Linked DNA regions of Homo sapiens: region 2 is linked to region 1. The links come from fine-mapping of genetic effects on gene expression. A gene starts in region 1. The other region holds a variant in brackets. All regions are shown on one strand. Distances are from middle to middle.

Region 1 (12,723 bases):
ATACTCTTCAGAAATGTCAATGTCATGAAAGACAAAGAGGGCCAATAAACTGTTCCAGATTACAGGAGATTAAAGAGATATGACATCTAAATTAAATGCACAATCCTGTATGAGGGGAAAAACATTATGAGACATTACTGAGACAACTGGCAGCGTGTCAACAGGAGAGTATATTAGATACTTGTACACATCAATGTTAAGTTTCTTAACTGTATAATGGTTAAGCAAAAGAATGCCTTGTTCTTGGAATATATTCACTGAAGAATATAGGAATATAAAAGGACACATTGTCTGCAAGTTACTCTCGAATGATTCAGAAAAAATCAAGGGGATAGTGTGGTGGGAACATGTGATAAAGCAAATGTGACAACATGTTTAAAAGGTAAATCTAACTGAGGGGGCCTTAGAAGTTCTTTTTACTATTCTTACAATTCTTCAGTAAATTTGAAATTATTTCAAAATAAAAGACTAAAAAAAATAGCTGAGCTTGTAAGAGAGAGCACTTCTCTTCACCAAAAAGTAGGAACTAAAAACCAACGTAGAAGGCATACAAAGCTGTCTTAGAGCTTAGTTCCATAAGACATATTTCCATATGTCTTTGTGTGAGAGAATGTACAGTGCAAGGAAGGGGAAACCAGGAGTAGCCCGGCAAACTTGAGTTGAGCAGACAGAACTGAAAAACTGGAGAAGACAAGGTAGTTAGTTCCCTGGAGAGGGAGAATCATACAGAGAGAACTCCAGAGAATTTCAGAGGGTTCCGCTTGAGAATTCAGCTGAGTACTCACAGCACATGCATATGATCAAACCATGAGGCTGGAGAAAGAGCAACTAGAAATGATTACAGATAACAGTGCTTGGCACTCATATCGGGCTGGGAATAGTGCCTGTTCTCACCAGCCCGACAGAAAAACTTTGTGATTCACAGTCATTGGGTAGAGTACACAGAAAAGTCTTGGCTCAGGAGTAGGAAATTATTACCCCTAGTAGCTGAGCAATACTCAGATCCTGACTAATATTTAATAAATCTTAAAAGCAAGTTTTGAAAGAATTAAACTAATTTCAAATAATTTAATTGCATCACAGAATAAAGCTCAAAGTTATTTATAGAAAGATAAAAATCATTCAGGCTGGGCATGGTGGCTCAGGCCTATAATCCCAGCACTTTGGGAGGCTGAGACGGGTGGATCGTTTGAGTCCTAGAGTTTGAGACCAGCCCTGGAAACATGGCAAAACCCTGTATCTGCAAAAAACTACAAGAAATTAGCCAGGTATGGTGGTGCACACCTGTAGTCCCAGCTATTTGAGAGCTGAGGATGGAGGATTGCTTGAGCCTAGGAGGTTGAGGCTGCACTGGCCACTAGCTCTAGCCTGGGCAACAGAGCAAAACCCTATCTTAAAAAAAAAAAAAAAGAAATGTAATATTCGCAATCTGACATTTAATAAAAAAAATTACCAGACTTCCAAAGAAGCATAAAAATATGGCCCATAATGGAAATAAAAATTAACTAAAACCAACCCAGGACTGGCAGACATGTTATAACCTGGAGACTAGAATATTAAAACAATGATTATAACTGTATTCCACATGTTAAACAAATGTAGTAGACATGAAAGATATTTTTTAAAAGACCCAAATCCAACTTCTACACATAAAAACAATATGTGAAATAAAAAATATACTGGATAGAATGAATAGCATATTAGACATTGCAAAATAAAAAACTGGTGTCCTTGAAAACCTAGCAACAGAAACTTTACAAAATGAAACCTAGAAAGAAAAGATAATTTTAAAAATAAACAGAGCATCAATGAGCCATGAGACAACTTCAATCAGCTCAAAATACATATAACTGTCATCCCCAAAACAGCGCAAGAATCGAAGAGCACACAGAAAAAAGTATTTCAAGAAACAAGGTCAAAATTTCCCCAAATTCATTGAAAACTATAAACCTATGGATCCAAGAAGCTCCATGAACCCCAAGCACAAGAAACATAAAAAAGACTACACTTGCAAGGCACATCATAATGAAATTACTCAAAACCAGTAATAAAGAGAAAAATGTTAAAAGCAGCCAGAGAAAAACAGACACTTAAGTACAAATACAGAAAGATAAAGATGATAGTAGATTTTTAATCAGAAACAAGGCAAATGAAAAAAAACAGTGGATCAAGATCTTCAAAGTACTGAAAGAAAAAACTATCAATCTAGAACTCTATATCCGGTGAAAATATCTTTCAAACAAACATTTTTCCACACATACAAAAGCTGAGAGAATTTTTCAGTAGCCAATCCTAACCACAAGAAACATTTTTAAAAAGGAACTACATTAGACAGAAGAAAAATCATACTATATTAGAAATACAGATCTATAAAAAGAAATTAAAAGACTGAAAATAGTAACCATATTGATGAATATTTAAGATATTTTCTCACTAAATCTCTTTTAAAAATAATTGACTAAGCAAAAATAACGATGATGTTGTATGGGGCTCATAACATGTAAAAGTAAAGTGGTCAGGAAAGGAGAAATGGAAGTAAATTATTGGCAGGTTTTTATACATGAAATGGTATAATATCACTTGAAAATACACTATGATAAAGGATGTATGCTATAAACCCTACAACAGTCACTAAAATAAAGTTACTGTCAATAAGCCAATAAAGGAGATAAAATGGAATTGTAAAAAATTTCAATTCATCAAAAAGAAGGAAGAAAAGAAGAGAGAACAGAGAACAAATGGGACAAATTGAAGACAAATAGCAAGACGTCATTTAAATTTAACCTTGAAATTTTGAAAACCTGGCAGAGCACGGTGGCTCATGCCTGTAATCCAAGCACTTTGGGAGGCCAGGCGGGCGGATCAGGAAGTCAAGAGATCGAGATCATCTGACCAACATGGTGAAAACCCATCTCCAATAAAAATACAAAAATTAGCTGGGTGTGGTGGCACGTGCCTGTAGTCCCAGCTACTCAGGAGGCTGAGGCAGAAGAATTGCTTGAACCCAGGAAGTGGAGCTTGCAGTGAGCCAAGATTGCGCCACTGCACTCCAGCCTGGCGACAGAGCAAGACTCCGTTTCAAAAAAAAAAAAAAGAAAGAAATTTTGAAAAATGTAAATAGTTATTTTAGGGTACTAGTGTCATGAGTGACTGTATTCTCTCTCAAATTTGTTGTTCAATAATAAAAGATAAAGTTCTAAGTCACCATGTTTCATATAAAATAGGATACATATGAGTGGTCAGTGCCTGTAGTCCCAGCTACCTGGGAGCCTGAGGCAGGAGGATCATTCAAGCCCAGGCGTTCTAGACCAGCCTCAGCAACCTAGCGAGACCACATCTCAAAGAAGAATAAGAAAAAAAAAGAGTGGCCAGAGATATATGTATGTCTTAAACTAAAACAAAAAATAAAACCAGGCTATGTGCAGTGGTTCATGCCTATAATACCAGCGCTTTGGGTGGCCAAGGCAGGAGGATCACTTGAGCCCAGGAAATCGCGGCTACAGTGATATGATCATACCACTGCACTCCAGCCTGGGAAACAGAGTGAGATGGCCTCAAAATAAATAAATGAATGAATAAATACCCACATACTAACACAGCTTAAAAAGAAGTAGATCACTAATATTTTGAAGACCCCAGTACCCCGTCTCCTACTCTCCTCCCCAAGCAACCACTATCCTGAATTCTGATTAATCATTCCTCTGCTCTTATTTATGGTTTTACCAGATGGGTTTGAAATCGTGAACAACAGTATTTGTTGCAAATTTTTAATTTTTATAAAAATTAAATCATAATGTATATATTATTATATGGTTTGCTTTTTTCAATTAACATTGTATTTTTGATGCTCATCCATGTTGGTGTGTAGCTATATTCATTTTCAATGAATCCAATGAAAATGAATTCATTTTCAATCAATCCAATGGATTTCAATGAATCCATGTTGGTGTGTAGCTATGTTCTATTCATTTTCAATATATTTTTACATTTTCCTATTGATGGCCATATGGGTAATTTCTAGAGCTGTGCTCTTAGAAACAGTGCTTATGAACATCTTGTACATCTCTTGATTTAAATGGGTATGTAAAGGAATGGAATTGCTACATTACGTTTCCAGATATAATGATCACTCTGTGTTATTAGCCTCATTGTATTAATAAATGAAGATTTATAGAGACCAGGAAACTTGTTCAAGGTCACACAGCTAGGTAGTAAAGTTAAGACCAATAAATTCTGCTCCTTTCACTTGAAAAAAACTCAAGGTTAGGTAGCTCATACTTCTGGAAACATGTAATTATCAAACAGAATCCTGATGAATAATGTTTTATCTTGTTTAACTAAAGTTAAAAGAGGAGGTCCTAGCAAATTATTCCACTCAATTCTACCACTTGACCACTCAAAGCAACTTGACTACGTAATGATCATGATTAAAACTTTTATCCTATTAAAATATCCTGTATTTCACCATTCCTGAAAATTCCAGTCAAATGTTATAGTTTAAAATGTGTACAAATTGTGTATGTATAAAATTGTAAGACATAGTAATAAAGTGGTTCTCATTGAGACTACAGTTTTAAATTAAATTACAAGCACTTTTATTTTTGCCATAACTAAATTTGGAATTACTACGTTTAAGATTCACTAAAGTGAATGTAATAATTATTTTTAAAATACTACATATTCATTTTAAGAAATTACTTGAGAATACTTTCAAAAATGTCCTGCATGTCACTTAAGCCAACAAATAATTTCCAAGATACCTAGCATTACACTTAAATTTTAAAAAGGGTAAAAAGCCAAAGTTTTTTTTTTCAGCTAAGGTCAACTATTTAGCTCTGCAATCTTTCCTTTAAAAAATATTTGTAATAATTTGGTCTCTGATTTATTTCACAAGTCTTAACCTTGCTTTATAAATAATCCTATTTTCAATCACACTCCATTATCTAACATGGCTGTTTACTAAATACATGATCCTATGGTAAAGTACATATTTCTAAAAATGTAGCTACTTAGACAGACAGCAATGTAAAGGCATCTTTACATTATAGTACTCTCTAAATATTACATTGTTACTTTCAACAAAAAGGAACCAGATTATAACAAAATTGTTATAAAATAGCTTAAAAGTGTAATAGAACTTCATTAAAGAAAACATTAAGATGAATGAGTTTTAACTAGATCTATAACAATTTTATATATGCTAGAGATAAAATTAATATGAGGTTAAATAATTTTCTTTTTTTTTTTTTTTTTTTGAGACAGGATCTCCCTTTGTCGCCCAGGCTGGGGTGCAGTGATGCCAGTGCAACTTCTGCTTACTGGGCTCAAGCAACCCTCCCACCTCAGCCTCTTGAGGAGCTGGGACTACAGGTGCACAACACCACACTCAGCTAATTTTTTAAAAATTTTTTGTAGAGACAAGGTCTCAGTATATTGCCCAGGCTGGTCTCAAACTCTTCGACTCAAGCAGTCCTCCGGCCTTAGCCTCTCAAAGTGCTGAGATTACAAGTGTGAGCCACCACGCCTAGCTGTGGTTAAATAATTGTATACTATAAAAAAGCATAAGATCTTGTGAGTTCCAAAGTGCCTTGGGTATCAAGAGCCAACATTCTATTTCAGAGATTTGAAACTTAATGATCCTTTAATATCTTTGCTGGATGTTGTTAGAATGGTATTTCAAACATTTTCTACAATTTGAATTAAATATTACCTTACTAAATAACGCGAGGCTGGGCAAAAAAAATGTTAAGCATAACTCCAAATATAGCATAACAGTTTAATGCTCTGTTTGTTGCCTTAACAAAAAATGAATGTCTGCAACACATTCACAAACCACCTGGAGATTCAAACTCACAGTGAAAGTGCAATGACATATTGTGCTACTTGACATTAGCTATTACCAAAGACGGTTCAAAAGGAAGAGAACACAGACAATCTTATTAGTATAATTGGAAATGTGCTGATATACCCACCTTACCAAACATCTTCTCTTGCAGTGTATTATATTACCTGAGAAAAGTAACTTACAATCAGTGCTAATATGCTCCTTAACCTGATTTACAAGGGCAACTAGCAATAAACAGAACAAGGCCCGTGAACTACCACACAGGTGACTTCAATTCTGTATATCTGGACTGGATGGGAATACGGGGGCTTACATGTTTGTGGCCTTCTTGGAGTATGGGAATGTCCTGTCCTGCTATAGGACTGCAGTGAGAATTCTGGTTATAAAAAGTCTCCCTTGTAAAATTCACTGTAAATCGAGGACAAAAATCATGAGATTGTTTTGTTATACTTTAAGTTCTAGGGTACATGTGCACAACGTGCAAGTTTGTTACATATGTACGTATACATGCCATGTTGGTGTACTGCACCCATTAACTCGTCATTTACATTAGGTAAAATCATGATATTTTTAAGGACAACAACATGGAAAAATCTTTCTGTTAGCAGCTAGTAGAAGAATTCATTTAGGAGGATAATGGAAGAAATTTTTCGTAACTGCTCAGAGTAAAAAGTAAAACTCAGAGAACCTAGGTTTGAGAATAATGCACACCTACTAATTCAGGACTAGACACATAAATTTGAGAGTTTTTGACATTAAAAGTAGCATTTGAAGTGATGCAACTTATGAATTAGCTCACTGAGGGATTTAGTATAGACAGAGAATACAGGCACCCCAATGTTAAGAGATCACAACTAAAAAAAATTTAGAAACTCCGCAGAACTGAGAACCAGTAACAAAAGAGGAAAACCAGGAAAGTATGTTGTCTGAGAGCCAAATGAATAAAGAGATACAAGGAGAGTCATTCAGGTATGATATTAATAAATGCTAAAAGTAAAGCATTACATTTCTTTCCAAAAATAGCAAATCCTCCAAACTGAAATAGAGAAAAATTGAAAGATATTACTTGGCATTCATTTATCAGTGACAGAGAAAAAACGGAAGTTCTAACAATGTTATCTAATAGAGATGTTTTATTCATTTTCATTACGTATATGCTGTGTATGCTACTCCCGAGCATCATATCTTCCTTTTAACATCCACAAGAAACAAGCTTTCAAAAAGCACAGCAATTCTCTTGGCAGCATTAATTTTAAAGAGAACCTCTTAAGTTGTTTTACCAGCTGAGACTGACTGACTAAACAACCAGTGTCTCCCCTTCAGTCGCCAGTCTTTCCTTAGAAATGCCTGTTTGGCATAACTTTAAGACTCAAGATGGTTTAAGGCGCATCCTGTTTCTTCCAAAAGGGAATGGACAAAACTCAACATTCACGGAGGGCTTAGAGCAAATTAGAACCGTATACTGTGACCTCCTGGAAGGGAGAGGCTCACCTCCTACAAAGTAAATGCTCAATAAATATTTTTGATATAACTCTGGAAGAGCTCCATTTGGGGTCGGGGGTGCACCTACTCCAGGGCACCACCCCCTCCAAAATAGCTGCATTCCCACAGCCCTCATACTCCGCTCAGAAAAGGGACCGGCGAGCTTGCAGGCATCCGCACAGCGGATAAAAGCAAAGCGGGACGGCGCACCAACCGCATTCCGGATCCTAAGGTTAAAAGAAAACCCCTTGCCCTCGGGCCAGGGCTCACCTGTCTCGGGAGTGGGGAAGAAGCGCGACTCCCGGCCGCTTTGGAGTAGGCGTCCCAGCAAAACTCTCGCCTCATCACCAGACACTACCCCGGGCAGAAGGTTCCTAGGCTAGGTCCTCGGACCCGAGAGGGAGCGACACGCTCGCTTGGTCTCTTGGGTCTCCAGGACGCCGCCGCCGCCGCCACAGTTTCCTCAGGTGCTACAAAGCAGCCAGGGTGTGCGTGCGCTCCCGCCTCGTCGCTTAGCAACCTGAGAAGCTGTCCGGTCGTCCCAACTTATCAATTCCCCCGCCCCTCCAGAGTGTCAATCGTTTTTTAAAAGATTTTGTTTCCGGGTCGATCCAGCTTTACGCAGCGGAAGGTCTCTTTACCTCCCACGTTTACCCTCATGGGAGGATGCAGTCTCAGTCACGCGCGTGGGGGTGATGTCGCTAAGGGGTGATTCTCCCCTCCCTAGAGTTACACACGCTATCTCTCCCGCCAATTGCCGGGCTCCATCAGGCAGGTCCTTTCCTCCTGAGCCCAAACCATCCGTTTGTTGTCGTCCTCCAATCACAGGGGCTCATCCTCAGGGACTACTTTGCAATCGGCGCAGAGCGCAGTGAGAAGAGCTTGAAAAAAACCTCTGGTATCGGGAAGTGTAGTTCAACACTTGAAGGAAATGCTTTGGAGATTGCGCCACAACCAGGGCAGCGTAAACTACAGTTCCCAGAGAGCGCCGCGTCGGGAGCGGAGCCTTTTCTCGCTAACACCGCTCGCCCTCTCCGAGTCAGTTCCGCGGTAGAGGTGACCTGACTCTCTGAGGCTCATTTTGCAGTTGTTGAAATTGTCCCCGCAGTTTTCAATCATGGTGAGTGTGGGCCCCGGGTTCCTGCCCACCTCTGGCCCTCGCGCCCTTGAGTGGGGTTTCTTGCACTTTAGGGACTTTTGGGAGGCAGCTGTGCAAGGCACTGTCCTTCGCGCCCTTTGGCAAGCTCGGACTCATCTTCTGGGGATTGCCGCAGTGACCCAGTAATGGGAAGGGATTGATTTCCACCTTGCGGGGTATGGGGCGCTCTTAGGAGGACTCTGGAGAAGTAGTTGTCCTGGGAGAGGAGCGATCTTAATCCTGCTGCATGACGGGAGGACAAAATGCGACGCTGCAGCTATTTTCCAAAGGACGTTACGGTGTTTGATAAGGACGATAAGGTTTGCGATGGGAGGGAAAGGTTGGGTCCTAACCCCTTTTTCTCCTCATTTGCCCACAGTGTTTATAACGGCTTTTGTCACAGGGACCTTGAAAGCAAAAAGCTGGAAAGGTAGTATTTACCAGGTGCTCCAGATTACGATCTGCGTTTGCAGCAGACGTGTTTCCGCCATATCTAATTTCTCAAAATGTTATTTGGAACCCGTTCATTGACCTTTTTTGTAATGCCAGGATATATTGAAGTGACAGCATCACTAACTAAATAACTACTGCAAATATTCTTTATTGAACTGTATATTGTGAATTCCAGAAGCACCTCTCTTAAATGTAACAGAGTAACCATTTTGTCATGGAAGACCTGGGTAACCTGCATCTCCATCGCTTGTCTCTGCTGAAAGAGAGGGGGAGGGGGAGAGTTGGTGAAGGAACTCTGGCGTAGGAATAATCTGCGTACTGCTTGAAGGTGACATTTGTCATCAAACTCAGAGAAATCGCTTCATACTATCAATACAATGGCTTGTATTTATAGTTGCGACTGTTTTTCCTACTTTATCTGCAAAATACTAAAACGGCTGGAGAATGTGGAGAAATGTTTGAATGAATTGGAAATTTCCCAGAACCTGAAAAGACACGTTTTCAAGGCAAGGGCATTACTCTCTCTGCCTGTCTAACGGGGCCAGTGGAGACAGCTACTAATTTCCAGTAGGTGTTAAACCTAGGTTTCCTAAATGTTTTGTCACATAATTAGTCATTTAAATTATGGTTTCGGTAGTTTCTGTCCTAATAACCTTAGCTAGAAAGCAGAGGTACTTATTATCTGATAACCTTGGACTTTTTGCTTTTAGAACTGAATGGGATCTTTTAAAGGTCATCTTGACGAATCTCCCCACTTCAGATCTTAAAATGGAGTTTATCGAGACCCAAAGAGAATGTGATTTGCTCCAAGAGTCTCACACTCTTGCCATTTTTCTATATTGTGTCTTACACTTACCAAGTCTTTCTGAATTTTTATTTTTATAGGGACCACCGCAGTGAGGTCTCGCAGCGGGGGAGAGACAGTGTACTCAACTCCCTGAAAACTTATTTTTACTAGCTGAGATTCCGGATGAAGTTACCAGTTCATACTGCATATACAAACTCAAATATGTTATCAGCATGTAGATTACTTGATAGCTTTATTCCTTGCCATTCAAAATACTGGAATTGTAGAATTAAAAGGGAATTTGGAGATTATATTATCTACTCTTATAATGTAGTCTGGTGAGGTCAGATAATTTTCCCAAGGTCACAGAGATTTTGGGCCCCAGATTCTTAGCTAGTTTCCCTAGCAAGGCCCCACCGTTGGAAGGTCACTGGGGTGCCAGATAACACAGAGACAGAACATGAGGAAGAATTTGTCTGGCAGTTTGCTGGAACTGACAGCAAACTCACACATGACTCAATTTCCCTGCCCCCTCAGGAGGGTGTGTGAATGGACAGAGTTAGAAAAGAGCCTTCTTCTGTAAGCTCATTCAAAGCGGAGGATTCTTTGCTTGTTGTCTGTAGGGAGTGACAGCAAAATAAACTGTATGAAGGAATCTAAATGGTACTGCTTAGTTTTTTGTGTTATAGAAATACATGTAATTTAGAAATATATATAAATTTGAAAGTGAAAAAGAAATATGTGGCTCTGTCTGTGGAATAACAGACACTTAAATTCAATCTTTATAGCTGAGAAGTTAGCACAGAGCCTGCATCTGCAGGAAAGTCATTGGTGCCCTGCTAAGAGCAAAGACGTTCCTTTTTTGGACCTTGGCACACTGCCCAGATATCTGAGCAAAGAATAGTAACCTATGTTCACACTATAACATTGTGAAAGTCAGCAGGACTCTCCCACCCTCCTGCTTTTCAACTGCAATGTTGCAGAAGAGCAGAAAGAACCATACATGGACTTTTCTTTCTCTGTTTCATCTTCAGACATTCAAACACTAAGCCTCATACTACCATTAATAAGATGGAATTACCTACCTGGGAAAGTAATTTCCCCAAAGACACAGAAGAAAACTGCTGAGGTGGAATTAACTGTTCATTAGGTGGCCACAACCCCTTCACTAAGGACTGTGATACTGTGAACATGTTTTTAAGTAGCTACTAAAATTGACTGCATTATTCTAACCATATAGGTGACCTTATGGGAAGTTAAACTTAATAGATAGTGATCTTCACTCTCTTCAGCCCCCCTTTTCTTATCCTAGTTTGCTGTTCATTGAAGTAGTATCTGTTCATACTTTATACCCTAACCTTCCTTCATTCAACAAATACTTTTTGTGGAAATGCAAATCCATATCAAAGACAGACTGTTCTCAAGAGCGCTTCATGGCCTAATACAGAGCAACAGAAATGTAAATAGAAAACCACAGGCTATTAAAGTCTTTAGAGGAAAATTCTGTGATGATATTTATAAATACTCACTACGTACTGTTCTTAGTGCTTTGTGTGTTAACTCTTTTAATCCTTAAAACTACTCTGTTTGTTAGGTAATTGCTATTATTATCTCCATTTTACTATGGGGAAATAATACAGAAAGGTTAAGTAACTTGTCCTAGAGCATGCAGTTAATGAGTTGTGGAGCCAGGACTTGAACACAGAAAGTCTGGCTCCAGAGTCCATCTCTTTAATTACTACTCTCTACTGCTTCTCTAGCCCCCTGTTTTAGAAAATTGGTGTATCCTTTTTGTTTCCTTCACGTGATTCACCAATGGATTCCCTGGCCTAAAATAGTACCAAGTACATGATAGGAACTTAATGATGTTTTGTTTAATGAATGAATTAAATGAGAAAACAGTTCATCAGTGGATTTATAAGGTAATATCATTAGTACTAATGACAATTTTGTTAGCTATAGTTGGAACTATTGTGGTCACTAAGTTTCCAGTTTTCTCAATACATAATATATATGAATAAAATACCTTTTGTTTTCATAGTATATATGAAAAAGTTTTTGTTTGAGACAGGATCTCACTCTGTCACCAAGGCTGAAGTGCACTCACACAGTAATGGCTCACTGTAGCCTTAACTTCCAAGGCTCAAGTGATTCTCCTACCTCAGCCTCCTGAGTGGCTGGAACTACAGCATCTGCCACCACACCCAGCTAAATTGTTTTTTTAAGAGACAGGGTTTCACTATGTAGCCCAGGCTGGTCTCGAACTCCTGGGCTCAAGTGATCCACCCGCCTTGTCCCCCCGCGCAATGCGCTGGGATTGTAGGTGTGAGCCACTGCACTCAGCCTGAAATAGCTTAAATAAATAAAATATCTTAAAAAATTTTTTAAAGCACGTTACATATGTTTTCAAACAGTTCTTATACATTTCCATCTTTTTGATAGTTTTACAGGACCCAGCTATTCCTTCAAGCAAATACCAGAGTTCCAACTACAGGACAGGTGTTGTTCTAGGCAATTGAGATACAGCAGTAAATAAAATAGACAAAGTTCCTGTCCTTAAGGATCTCGTATTCTAAAGGGAAAGGGAGTAATAATTTCTTCCTGTATTCCCTTTTCCTCACCTACTCTACTTCAAGGAAAGAAGGGAAAATGACAGAATGAAAAACGTGTAGGCCATTAAAGATTTTTCTATAAATAGTAATAAATTAGAAAAAAAAAATTGTGTAGTATGTAGTTGGCTATGATCAAATTCATTTCTCTACACCAGTTGACACTTTTTGTTTTTTTTGTTTGTTGTTTTTTGTTTTTTTTTTGAGAAGGAGTTTCGCTCTTGTTGCCCAGGCTGGAATACAATGGCACGATCTCCACTCACTCAACCTCTGCCTCCCGGGTTCAAGTGATTCACCTGCCTCAGCCTTCCAAATAGCTGGGAGATGCCTGCCACCACACCCAGCTAATTCTGTATTTTTAGTAGAGACGGGGTTTCTCCATATTGGTCAGGCTGGTCTCAAACTCCCA
Region 2 (12,963 bases), 120 kb before region 1:
CTTAGAACTGATAAGCAAATTCAGTTGCAGGATACAAAAATCAACATATAAAAATCAGTAGTACACTGATCAGCATACATGTAAAAATCAGTATACAACAATAATGAACTAGGCGAGAAAGAAATCAAGAAGACAATCTCATTTACAGTAACTACAAAAAATAAAATACTTAGGAATAAATTTAACTAATTTAGTGAAAGATCTCTACAAGAAAAACTGTAAAACACTGACGAAAGAAACTGAAGAGGACACAAACAAGTGAAAAGAAAATACCATGCTCATGGATTAAAAGAATTAACATAGTTAAAATGACCATACTATCCAAAGCAATCTACAGATTGAATGTAATACCCATGCCACTTTTCACAGACATAGAAAAAATAATCCTAAAATTTGTATGGAACCAAAAAAGAACCCAAACAGCCAAAGCAATCCTGACCAAAAAGAACAAATCTGGAGGCATCACACTACCTGACTTCAAAACATATTACAAGGATATAGAAACCAAAACAGCATGATATTCGTGTAACAACAGACACATAGATCAATGGAACAGACTAGAGACACAGAGATAAATCCACATATTTACAGCCAACTGATCTTCTCCATAGCCCTCAAGAACATACACTGGGGAAAGAAAACCCTCTTCAATAAATGATAACCACTTATTCTTCTATATGTAGAAGAATGAAACTGGACCCCTATCTCTCACAATATACAGAAGTCAACTCAAGATGGATTAAACCCAAAAGTATAAAACTACTAGAAATAGTAGTAGTTCTAGGGAAAACTCTTCAGGACATTGGTTTAGGCAAAGATTTTATGGCTAAGACCTCAAAAGCACAGGCAACAAAAACAAAAATAGACAAATGAGAGTATATTAAATTTACATGCTTCTGCACAGCAAAAGAAACAATCAACAGAGTGAAGAAACAACCTCTTGTATAGGAGAAAATGTTTGCAAATTACTCATCCAATAGGGGACTACTAATACCCAGCACATACAAGGAATTCAGACATCTCAACAGTTAAAAAAAAAACTCATTTAAAAAAATGAGCAAAGTACATGAATAGACATTTCTCAAAAGACATACATATAGACAAGAGGTATATGACTAACACCACAATGTGATTTCATCTCACCCCAGTTAGAATGGCTATTATTTAAAAGACAAAAAATAACATGCTGGCAAGAAAGAAAAGGGAACTCTTATATACTGTTGGTTGGAATGTAAATTAGTACAACCACTATGGAAAATAGTATGGAGATTTATCAAAAACCAAAAGGAGGCCTGGCATGGTGGCTCACGCCTGTAATCCCAGCACTTTGGGAGGCTGAGGCAGGCAGATCACCGGAGCTCAGGAGTTTGAGAACAGCTTGGCCAACATGGTGAAACCCTGTGCCTAATAAAAATACAAAAAATTAGCCAGAAGTGGTGGCATGTGCCTGTAGTCCCAGCTACTCAGGAGGCTGAGGCAAGAGAATGGCTTGAACTTGGGAGGGGGAGGTTGCAGTGAGGTGAGATTGCGCCACTGTACTCCAGCCTGAGCAACAGAGTGAGATTCTGTCTCAAAAAAAGAAGAAAAACAAAACAAAAGGAGATCTACCATACAATCCAGAAATCCTACTACTTGGTATCTATCCAAAGAAAAAGAAATATATTTATATCAAAAGGATATCTGCACTCACATGTTTATCACAGCACTATTCATAACAGCAAAGATATGGAATCAATCTAAATGCCCATCAACAGATCGATGAATAAAGAAAATGTGGTGTATATAACCAATGGAATATTATTCAGCCATAAAAAATAATGAAATCATGCATTTTGTAGCAACATGGATGGAACTGGAGGTCAGTATGTTAAATGAAATAAGCCAGGCACAGAAAGACAGGTACTACATGTTCTTACTCATATATGGGAGCTAAAAGCTTGACCTCATGGACATAGAGAATAGAAGGCACAGATACCAAAGACTGGGAATCGGGGGTGGGGGAGAGAGTTCGGTTATGAGTCCAAACATATAGTTAGATAGAAGAAATAAGTTATAATGTTTGATAGCAGAATAGGATGACTATACTTAGCAACAATATTATGTATATTTCAAAATAATTAGAAGAGAGAACTTGAAGTAATACCAACATGTAAAAATACTACCCACTCAAGTTAACAGACATCCCAATTACTCACACTTGATCATTACACATTCTTTGCATATAAACACTCACATGTACCCCACAAATATGTAAATTATGTATCAATAAAAGAGAAAAAAACAAAACAAAAAATACATGAAAATAAAGTAAGTCTCTCTTTTTTTTTTGAAACGGAGTCTTGCTCGATCTCGGCTCACTGCAAGCTCCGCCTCCCAGGTTCACACCATTCTCCTGCCTCAGCCTCCTGAGTTGCTGGGACTACAGGTGCCTGCCACCACACCCAGCTAATTTTTTGTATTTTTAGTAGAGGCGGGGTTTCACCATGTTAGCCAGGATGGTCTTCATCTCCTGACCTCGTGATTCACCCACCTCAGCCTCCCAAAGTGCTGGGATTACAGGTGTGAGCCACTGCGCCCAGCCACTAAGTCTCTTATAAGCAGAAAAAAAGGAAATACATGATGTTCTAAAACCACAAAATAAAGGATAAAGCTTCTCTGGGAAGGCTTCCTTGAGGAAGAGACAACTGATAGTCTGGGATCTAAGGTTGAGAATGTGTTACTTCCATGTAAGGGGAAGCAAAGGGCATTTTAGGCAGAGCTAGGAATGGTGCATGCAAAGGCCAGGTAGCAAGAGATAGTATGTAGAATATAAGGGATTGACAGAAGCCTGGTGATATAGTTTGGATATTTGTCCCCACCCAAATCTCATGTTGAAATGTAATCCCCAGTGTTGGAGGTGGGGCCTGCGGGGAGGTATTTGGGTCACAGAGGCAGATTCCTCATGGTTTGGTGTTATCCTGGCAATAGTGAGACAGTGTTCACTAAATTTAGTTGTTTAAATGTGTAGCACCTCCCATCCCTACTCTCTCTTGCTCTAGCTCCTGCCATGTGAGATGCTGGCTTCCCCCTTTGCCTTCCACCATGATTGAAAGCTCCCTGAGGCTTCACCAGAAGCCAAGCAGATGCCAGCAACATGCTTCTTGTACAGCCTGCATAACCACGAGCCAATTAAACCCCTTTTCTTTATAAACTATCCAGTCTCAAGTATTTCTTTATAGCAATGCAAGAACGGCCTAATACACCTGGTGTAGCTTGGCCAATGAGATTAAAAAAGAGTGCAGTAAGGGATGAAATTTAAAATGCAGGTAGATTGGGACCAGTTTTGTTGATGTTATAATTTTTAAAATTCAAATTATTGATTCATGTTGGAATATATAATACATTCATGTAGCTCCAAAAGAACACAACAGCAGATTATACCAAGGTGTACCATTAAAAGTCTTCTTCTCATCCCTGTATCCCCTTACCCACGTTTCTCTATCCCTTTTAATCAGTTTCCAGTTTCCCACCTGTCCTCCAAAGTTGTAGAAGGGTTTTAAGCAGAGGAGTAACAAATTTGTTTTTTAAAAAGTTCAACCATTGTGGAAGACAGTGTGGCAATTCCTCAAGGATCTAGAACTAGAAATACCATTTGATCCAGCCATCCCATTACTGGGTGTATATCCAAAGGATTATAAATCATGCTGCTATAAAGACACATGCACACATATGTTTACTGCGGCACTATTCACAATAGCAAAGACTTGGAACCAACCCAAATGTCCATCAATGATAGGCTGGATTAAGAAAATGTGGCACATATACATCATGGAGTACTATGCAGCCATAAAAAAGGATGAGTTCATGTCCTTTGTAGGGACATGGATGAAGCTGGAAACCGTCATTCTCAGCAAGCTATCACAAGGACAGAAAACCAAACACTGCATATTCTCACTCATAGGTGGGAACTGAACAATGAGAATGCTTGGACACAGGGTGGGGAACATCACACACCGGGGCCTGTCATGGGGTCGAGGAGAGGGGAGGGATAGCATTAGGAGATATACCTAATGTAAATGATGAGCTAATGGGCGCAGCACACCAACATGGCACATGTAATACATATGCAACAAACCTGCACGTTGTGCACATGTACCCTAGAACTTAATGTATAATAAAAAATAAATAAATAATTAATTAAATAAAAAATCATTCTGACTACTATGTGGAGAGCAGACTGGTAGGGGCACACACGGAATAGACAGAGTGGTTAGGAAGTTTTGAAGTAGTCTAGAGAGAGAAGTGAGGAGGTTCTGGCTAAAAATATGCAGAAAGGGATGGAGAACCTCTGGCAGAGGTGAGAGAAATTTAGAAACTAAAATCAACAAGAACCAGAGATTAGTTGGATATGGGGGGAAAGAAGGAGTTGGATAAAGAAGAGGATAATTTCGAAGATAAATAGCTGACTTCCAGGTTTCTGGTTTCTATAAATGGATGGAAGTCAGGGCCATTCCTTGAGATTGGGAATGGTGGAAGAGGACCAAAGAGGGGTCTCTGCGTTTCATTTTAAAGATACTGTCTGAGCTATCTTTGAGCTGCTTAAGGGGAGACATTAAGTAGTCAGCTGGATTTATAACCTTGGAGCACAGGGGAGAGGTTTGAGCTCTAGGAGGAACCATGGAAGCTGTGGTTATAAATTTGATAATCTAGAAGTTCAGAATGGAGAGCAGATGGTTCAGAATTGGGCCTTGAGGAATTCCAACATTCAAAGACGGGGGAAAGGAACACGGACCTGAAAAAGAAATAGAGAGAACACTGAAAGAACCAAAAAAAAAAAAAAATTTCAAGAACAAGGGGTACTCAGTAATGTTAACTGCTACTGTGTATTTAAGATGATAAGATTTTTTTTACATCTACTAGATTCAGTGATATGGAGGTTTTCTACAACCTTAGTGGAAGATTTGGCTGTGTAATAATCAGGAAAAAAGCATGATTAAAGTTGGTGAATGCTGAGTAAGCAAGAAGGAAATGGAGACTCTAAATACAGACAATTTTGTTGAGAAATCTGATTTGGAAGGAGAAGGATATGATATGATGGTACCTGGAGGAGAATGTGGTACTGACCAAGAGTTGGGTTCATTTGTTTAAATGGAGAAGAGTTGAGCCTGTTTAAAAGCTGACTGGGAATATCAAGGGCCCCCCAGTAGTCAAAACCATTTTGAAAAAGAAGAACAAAGTTGGAGGATTCGCATTTCCTGATTTCAAAATATATTACAAAACTAATCAAAAACAGTGTGGTTCTGGCATAAAAACAGACACATAAACCAGTGGAACAGAAAAGAGATCCCAGGAATAAATCCTCACATAAATGGTCAAATGATCTTCCACAAGGGTGCCAAGACTATTCGATGGGGAGAAAGAACAATCTTTTCAACAAACGATGCTGAGAAAACTGGATATTCATATGCAAAAGAACGAAGTTGAACCTTACCTTACATAATATACAAAAATTAACTCAAAATGGATTAAAGACAGAAATGTAGAGAGAGAACCCTGGAAAAGCAAAGTATCACGGACCCAATCTATAAAACTTCCAGAAGAAAAGAGAGGAAAAGCTTTATGACATTGGGGTGGACTTCATGATTTCTTGCATATGACACCAAAAGCACATACTACAAAAGCAAAAACAAACAAATGGGACATCAAACTTAAAAACCTTTAGGTATCAAAAGACACAATCAACAAAATGAAAAGGTAACCTACAGAATGGGAGAAAATATTTGCAAAACATATGAAAGAGTTAATCCTCAAAATACATTTTAAAACTCCTACAATTCAACAACGAAAAAATCAGATAATCCAACTTAAAAATGGGCAAAGGACTTAAATAGACATTTCTACAAAGATGATATATAAATACCCAACAAGCATATGAAAAGATACTCAACATTACTAATCATTAGATAACTGCAAATCAAAATCACAATGAAATACTACTTCATAGCTTGATAGTAGAATGATTACTACCACAAAAACAAACAACAACAAATCAGAAAAGATCTAGTGTTAGCAAAGATGTGGAGAAATTAGAATCCTCATGCACTCCTGGTGAGATTGTAAAATGGTGCAACCACTATGAAAATCAGTATGGTGTTTCCTCAAAAAATTAAAAATAGAACTAGCGTATGATCTAGTGATCTCAATTCTGGGTATACATCCAAAAGAATTGAAAGCGGGGTCTTGAAGAGATATTTGCACACTCATCTTCATAGATGCACTATTCACAAACTCTAAGAGGTGGAAGCAATCCAGATGTCCACTTATGGATGAATGGAGAAAAAAAAATGTAGATACCCATACACTGGAACATTATTCAGCCTGAAAAAAAGAAGGAAATCTTGTCACATGCTACGACACGGATGAACCTTGAGGACATTATGTAAGTGAAACCAGTCAGTAACA[A/G]AAAGATATATATTGTAGGATTCCACTTAGATGGGGTATCTAAAGTTGTCAAATTCATAGAAACAGAAAGTAGAATGCTGGTTACCAGGGGTTGAGGGGAGGGGGAAAAGGGGGCATTGTTGTTTAATGGGTATAGAGTTTCTGTTTTGCAAAATGAAAAAGTTCTGGACATCTGTTTCACAATAATGTGAATATACTTAACACACTGAACTGTACACTTAAAGATGGGCAATTGTGTTTTAAAAACACAGTACCATATGTTTTTATCACAATAAAAAAATTAATTTAAAGTTTTTTACTGAAAAAAAAGCTGACTGGGAAGATCAAACTGACAGGTTAAATTTATTTATTATTTATTTATTTATTTATTTATTTAAAAAGCAGGTACCTGTGCCAGACACTGTGCTAAGTATTTCATATGTGTTAACTTACTGAGTTCCCATAATAAACCTATGACTTAGGTATTTTTATTTTTGTTTGATAGCTAAATAAAAACTGGCACAAATAGATGAAGTAACTTCCCCAAAGTCACACAGCTGGGAAAGCCAAAATTTGACACCAAAAAAAATGGAGCAGTCTGTGCTTTCCACTACTATGCTGCACATCAGAGAAGTGACAGTCACATTAGGTTTGAGAAGGTTTGGATCCCACTTTGGGATCCAAAGTGAGGGCCACAGGTTCCTATTCTTTCTCAGTTCACAGTACCATTTGTGTCTCTCTAATTTTTTACAGTGCCCCTAGGCCAAAAGAAATACCAATAGTTCCATTTATTAAATAGATTAAAGCAACTTAATAAGTATTTATGTCCTAATAAGTTAATAGCCATTTGGAAATATAATACACAGAGATTGAAAGAAAAAGATTTTTATTTCATTCCTAAATAACTACTTACTAACAAGTTGTGTGTACTAACAGAAGACAGGCACCACAAAACTTGTCAAATTTTGAAATCAAATTGGACATCCTCACCCTAATTCCTGTTCTATGCTGATTATTGTGTAGTAGCTGCTTTTTATCACAGCAAGCCCTGAAAACCCAGCTTCAAATAGCTATGACAACCTGAAAAAGAATGTAGCATAAACTAACATTGAAACTCTGAACTATCTGGGGCTAATAGTTTGTATCTTCGACAGTAGTCTCTGTGTTTTCCTTGAGACTTTAAAAAATATCCTGCAGCATGCCTGTGAATTCACTGTAGTACCCAGGGTGCCTCTGTGCCTAGTTTGGGAACTTTAGGTCTAGGTGGAAGACTTGGCTCAGATAAAACAAGGGACTGTTCTATTATGGGAGAAGGATGAACACAAAAATAGACCAATTTATATGCTTAGTGGGGCCTCACAATTCAACCTAGGATTCCACTAAGACCAACAGGACTACCAAAGGACAGGTACTTCTTCACTGTGGAGAGCCACTGTGAACATTTTATATACAATACTATTTTATGAGTAGTTATAACTGCTTTTCATTTCACAGTCACTTGTTAAGTAGTTTATCTGCTAAGTTAATATTTTTATTTTTGAAAAAAACACTTTATTAAAAAAACTAAGGGACATATAAATTACAATTTGGCAAAAGTACCTTATGTGTTTTCTCTATTAGTTACATTGACATATATATATATAAAACGTAATATTCTCAAATATCACGAATATAAATTTGCTGTGTTTTCACACTTAACCTTAGATGCTTAGTTTATACATACATTTATATCACATTCTAACTTGTACATTTAATACAAAGTTATAAATTTAAAATAAGTCACTTTTTAAGTTTCTACAAAACTGATAAAACCTGATTAAAAAATCAGTACTAGTATTTAAATATAATTTATTAAAGTCTTCTCATTAGCTAACTATGGAAGTACAACTTTACCCTCCCTTTAAAAACTAGATAAATATTTGGTATGTGTTTGTAAAAGACACGTGAAAAACAACAAGAGAGGAGTTAGATTATTCAGATTTGAACTCATTTAGCTTGACACATATGATTAACTATAACTGAATAAATATGAGAAAAATTAATAGTCCTGAACTGGCTTCCTTTGTAGCAAAATACGTGGAAGCTTCCAAAACGTTATTAGTCATGAATGCCAACAGTGGAGCCAGGAAATTAAGAGTTTCTTTAAAGAAATGTTTTAAAATGAAAACAATTAATAAAAGCAAAGAAATAACCATTTATGAAGAGAACAGGAAGAAAATGTTGATTGATGATACAAAGATATATTATTAAAAAGAAGACCAAGTGTTTCTTTGTGTCACAACCATGTTGCAAAATCGGGTAAATATTCTACTGTATTCTTAAGCATAAATAATATATCAGTCAATTATCATAGGTCATTGAATTTTGGATTGAAGTAGTCAAGATACAATGTAAATTTCCTGTTTTTCTTGGAAAGGAATAAAAATTTTGTCCAAGGTCCAGCGGTGGCTCACACCTGTAATCCCAGCACTTTGGGAGGCCAAGGTGGACAGATCACCTGAGGTCAGGAGTTTGAGAGCAGCCTGGCCAGCATGGTGAAACCCCATCTCTACTAAAAATACACAAATAAGCCGGGCATGGTGGCACACACTTATAATCCCAGCTGCTCAGGAGGCTGAGGCAGGAGAATCACTGGAACCCAGGAGGTGGAGGTTGGAGTGAGCCGAGATTGCACTCCATCCTGGGCAACAGAGGGAGACCCCATCTCAAAAAAACAAACAAACAAAAGAAAATGCCAGGCGTGGTGGCTCAGGCCTGTAATCCCAGCACTTTGGGAGGCCAAGGCAGGTGGATCATGAGGTCAGGAGTTCAAGACCACCCTGGCCAATATGGTGAAACCCCATCTCTACTAAAAATAAAAAATTAGTCAGGTGTGGTGGTGCACGCCTGTAGTCCCAGCTACTCGGTAGGCTAAGGCAGGAGAATTGCTAGAACTTAGGAGGCAGAGGTTGCAGTGAGCGAAGATTGTGCCACTGCACTCCAGCCTGGGCGACAGAGCAAGACTCAGTCTCCAAAAAAAAAAAAAAAAAAAAAAAATTGCCCAAGGAAGACTAATTATCAAGGGCATGATATTAAACTCACTAGCTGAACATTTAAGATTCCTCAGGTACAATGTTGTGTGTATACACAAACATACACACATCCTTTAATGTAAATCTTTGTGAGTGTGATGGCTATGGCTGTATGCCACTCAGAACTCCTTCAAGAGGAACTGAGGCTGGCGGTAAAGTTGATGGAGAGAAGCCACACTTTCCCTGGGTGGCTACCAGCCAACGACTGAGCATCACTGGGTACTAGGGCCAGCCCAATCCTGTCCAACAGGGGATTCCTCTAATGAATAACATTTGGCCTGGCTGAAACTTTCTCAGCACCATGCTTCAGCCTGCACCTCTTTCTATCCAACCCTCCTTCCTTCTCTCTCCTTTCACATGTTCAGACTAGCATCATAGTTTAAAAGCTCTCCCCACCTACTCCTGCTCCCTTCTTCATCATCTTTCACATCTCCCCCACAAATCTCTCACATGGCTAGTACTATCTTGCCATCTGCTTCTTAGAAGACCCAAACTGACACTGAGCATGATTGAAAAGGATTTCAATTAAAGGAATGCATGTATAAATTGTTAAAATGTCAGAGAATACTTGGAATTAAAACAGCTGTTTACTGTCTTACCTCCACCCCACAGCCTCTCATCCCACTCTCAAAGATAATCATTTTCAATTCTCTTAGCAGCTTCTTCTGTTGCTACCTCACACTTCTAAGTAACATGATATGTTAGTTAGAAATGCATTCTTGTGTATGTAACACAAACCTGAAAACTCACTAGTTAACCAAATAGGGCTTGTTATTCTCACTTAGAAAGAAATATGAAGTTGAGCAGTCCAGGACTATAAAGCATCTCCATGATGTCATCAGATACCAGGCACCTACGTTCTATTCCCTCCCCCCTTAGCAGGTATGTTTTTCTTTCTGTCTGTCTCTCTCCTTCTTTCTTGCCAACAGCTCCAGCAATTAATGCTCCCCTTTCCCTGCATTGATTTCCCTCTTTCCATTGGATTATTCTCATTAGCATACCAATATCTGTTATTTCTCTCATCTAAAAAAGAAAGAAAAAATTAAAACCTCTTTTGACTCCATTTCTCCATCAAGCTCCTACTCTATTTCTCCATTTTCCTTTACAACATTAACCCTTTTTATAAGCCCCTAATTTCTCTCCTCCCATTTTCTCTTAAATACAAGAAAAAAAAAAGCCCATTAAAAAGTGGGCAAAGGACATGAACTGACACTTTTCAAAAAAAAAAGACATACATGCAGCCGACAACTCTATGAGAAAAAGCTCAATATCGCTGAGCATTAGAGAAATGTAAATCAAAACCACAATGAGATATCATCCCACACCAGTCAGAATGGCTATTACTAAAAAGTCAAAACATAACAGATGCTGGTGAGGTTGCAGAGAAAAGGAATGCTTATACACTGTTGGTGGGGGTGTAAATTAGTTCAACCACTTGGGGGAAAGCAGTGTGGAGATTCCTCAAAGTCCTAAAGTCAGAAATACCATTTGACCTAGCAATCCCATTACTGGGATATACCCAAAGGAATATAAATAGTTCTATCATAAAGACACATGCATGCATATATTCATTGCAGCACTATTCACAATAGCAAAGACATGGAATCAACCTAGATGCCCATCAGTGGTAGACTGGATAAAGAAAATGTGGTACATGTATACCATGGAATACTATGCAGCCATAAAAAGGACTAAGACCATGTTCTTTCCAGGAACATGGATAGCGCTGGAGGCCATTATCCTTAGCAAACTAACTCAGGAACATAAAATCAAATACCACATGTTCTCACTTGTAAGTGGGAGCTAAATGATGAGAACACATGAACAAAAAGAAGGGAACAATAGACACTGGGGCCTACCTGAGGATGGAGTGTGGGAGGTGGGAGAGGAGCAAAAGAAATCACTACTGGGTACTCAGCTTAGTACCAGGATGACAAAATAATCTGTATAACAAACCCCCATGACACATATTTACCTATATAACAAACCTGCACATGTACTCTTGAACCTAAAATAAAAGTTTTTTAAAAAATACTTTCCAATCAGGCTTCTACCATCACCTTCCATTGAAACTGCTTTTATCTAGATCATGAATGACCTGCATGCTCCTCCATGCAGTGGCCAATGGCCACCATCTTGTTACAGGTATCTTGGCATACTAGTAACACTCCACTTTATTCTTGAAACTTGGTTTCCAGGACACCACACTCCCTTCATTGTGCTCTACTTCTCTAGCTACTCCATTCTGTCTCCTTTCTTCATCTTCCCTTTTCTCCGTCTCTCTAATCTTAAAATGTTAGTGGACTCCAGGGCTCCACTCTTCAGTCTCCTCTGTTTCTCTGTCTACACCCACTCCTTTGGTGATCTTCACCAGTCTTTTGGCTTTTAGTGCCATCTGTGTTGCTGCCACTCAAATTTATACATCTGGCCCAAATCTTTCCCTCAACTACAAATTCCAATAATCAACAATCTATTTGACTTCTCTAATTGGCTATCTAATGGGCATTTCAAACATACCATGTCCAAAATTGAACTTCTGATAAGTCCCTCAAAAATATCTCTTCTCAATCTTCCCCACATCAGTAAATGACAACTCCATTCTTCCAATTCCTCAGAAATTTCCTCTATACCCCACATTTGATCCATCGGCAAATTCTGATGCCTCAACACTCAAAATATACCCAGAATCTGGCCATTTCTCACCACTCCACTGCTATCATCCAGTCAAAGCCACCATCACACCTTACCCTGGACTACGGCAACAGCCTTCTAACTCATCTTTTTCACTGTCTTCAATCTATTCCCATCAATAGCTACAGTGATCCAATTAAAAAGTAAATTGAAACATATTTCTCCACTCAAAACTCTTCAAGAGCTTCTCTTCTCATTTAGAGTAAAAGCCAAGCCCTCTGGATGACCTAGAAGACATATAACTAGTGTCACATTTCCTTTCTGACCTCAATTCCTACTACTCTTCTTGCTCATTTCACCCCACTCATATCAACTCCCTGCTATTCTTCAAACATGCCAGGTATACTCCCATCTCAGGGCCTTTGTACCTGTTGTTCCCTCTACCTGGAACGCTCTTCCGCAGGTATCTTCCATGGTTTACTCCCTCACTTCCTTCATATCTTAATCTCAATCTGGGGATACTTCATTAAGGCCTTTCCTGGCCACCAAATATGAGGCCCAGCCTGCCCTACCATCCCCCATCATGCTTTCTTGCTTGCTTTTATTTTTCTCTAGTAGTTGCACTCTCTTACATATTTTCCTTATTCATCTTTTCTTGACTCTGTCCTCTTTTAGAACATAAGCTACATGAGAACAGGGATATTGGTCACTTTTGTCCCTTTTGTTCACTGCTATCCCCAGCACATAGAATACTATCTGGCATATTGTTGGTACTAAATAAATATGCATTGAGTGAATGAATGGTCACAAGCTGCCCCTACCCTTTCTGGATCATATCTCA

Which allele goes with the higher level. Alleles are on the strand shown, and positions count from the first base shown. SD is a standard deviation of normalised expression in the study named.
In carriers of allele A in region 2, the expression in thyroid of the gene that starts at base 7,878 in region 1 tends to be higher than with G alone (small effect, 0.23 SD a copy in GTEx).

What was found. PIP is the estimated chance that this variant, and not a neighbour inherited with it, causes the effect.
Region 2: its variant is fine-mapped to the expression of WDPCP in thyroid (GTEx, PIP 0.99).

The regions. Positions count from the first base shown.
Region 1 is chr2:63,580,600-63,593,322 of GRCh38, forward strand. It overlaps WDPCP (WD repeat containing planar cell polarity effector), which reads right to left and starts at 7,878. Exons shown (of 18, transcript NM_015910.7): 1 at 7,598-7,878. The coding sequence starts at 7,672. It overlaps MDH1 (malate dehydrogenase 1), which reads left to right and starts at 8,364. Exons shown (of 9, transcript NM_005917.4): 1 at 8,364-8,447. The coding sequence starts at 8,445. RefSeq lists enhancers at 7,043-7,563, 8,075-8,394.
Region 2 is chr2:63,458,345-63,471,307 of GRCh38, forward strand. The region is part of intron 6 of WDPCP (WD repeat containing planar cell polarity effector); the gene reads right to left. Among named protein-coding and RNA genes, the nearest start is that of WDPCP, 120 kb to the right of the region's middle. The variant A/G (reference allele first, on the strand shown) is at 6,442.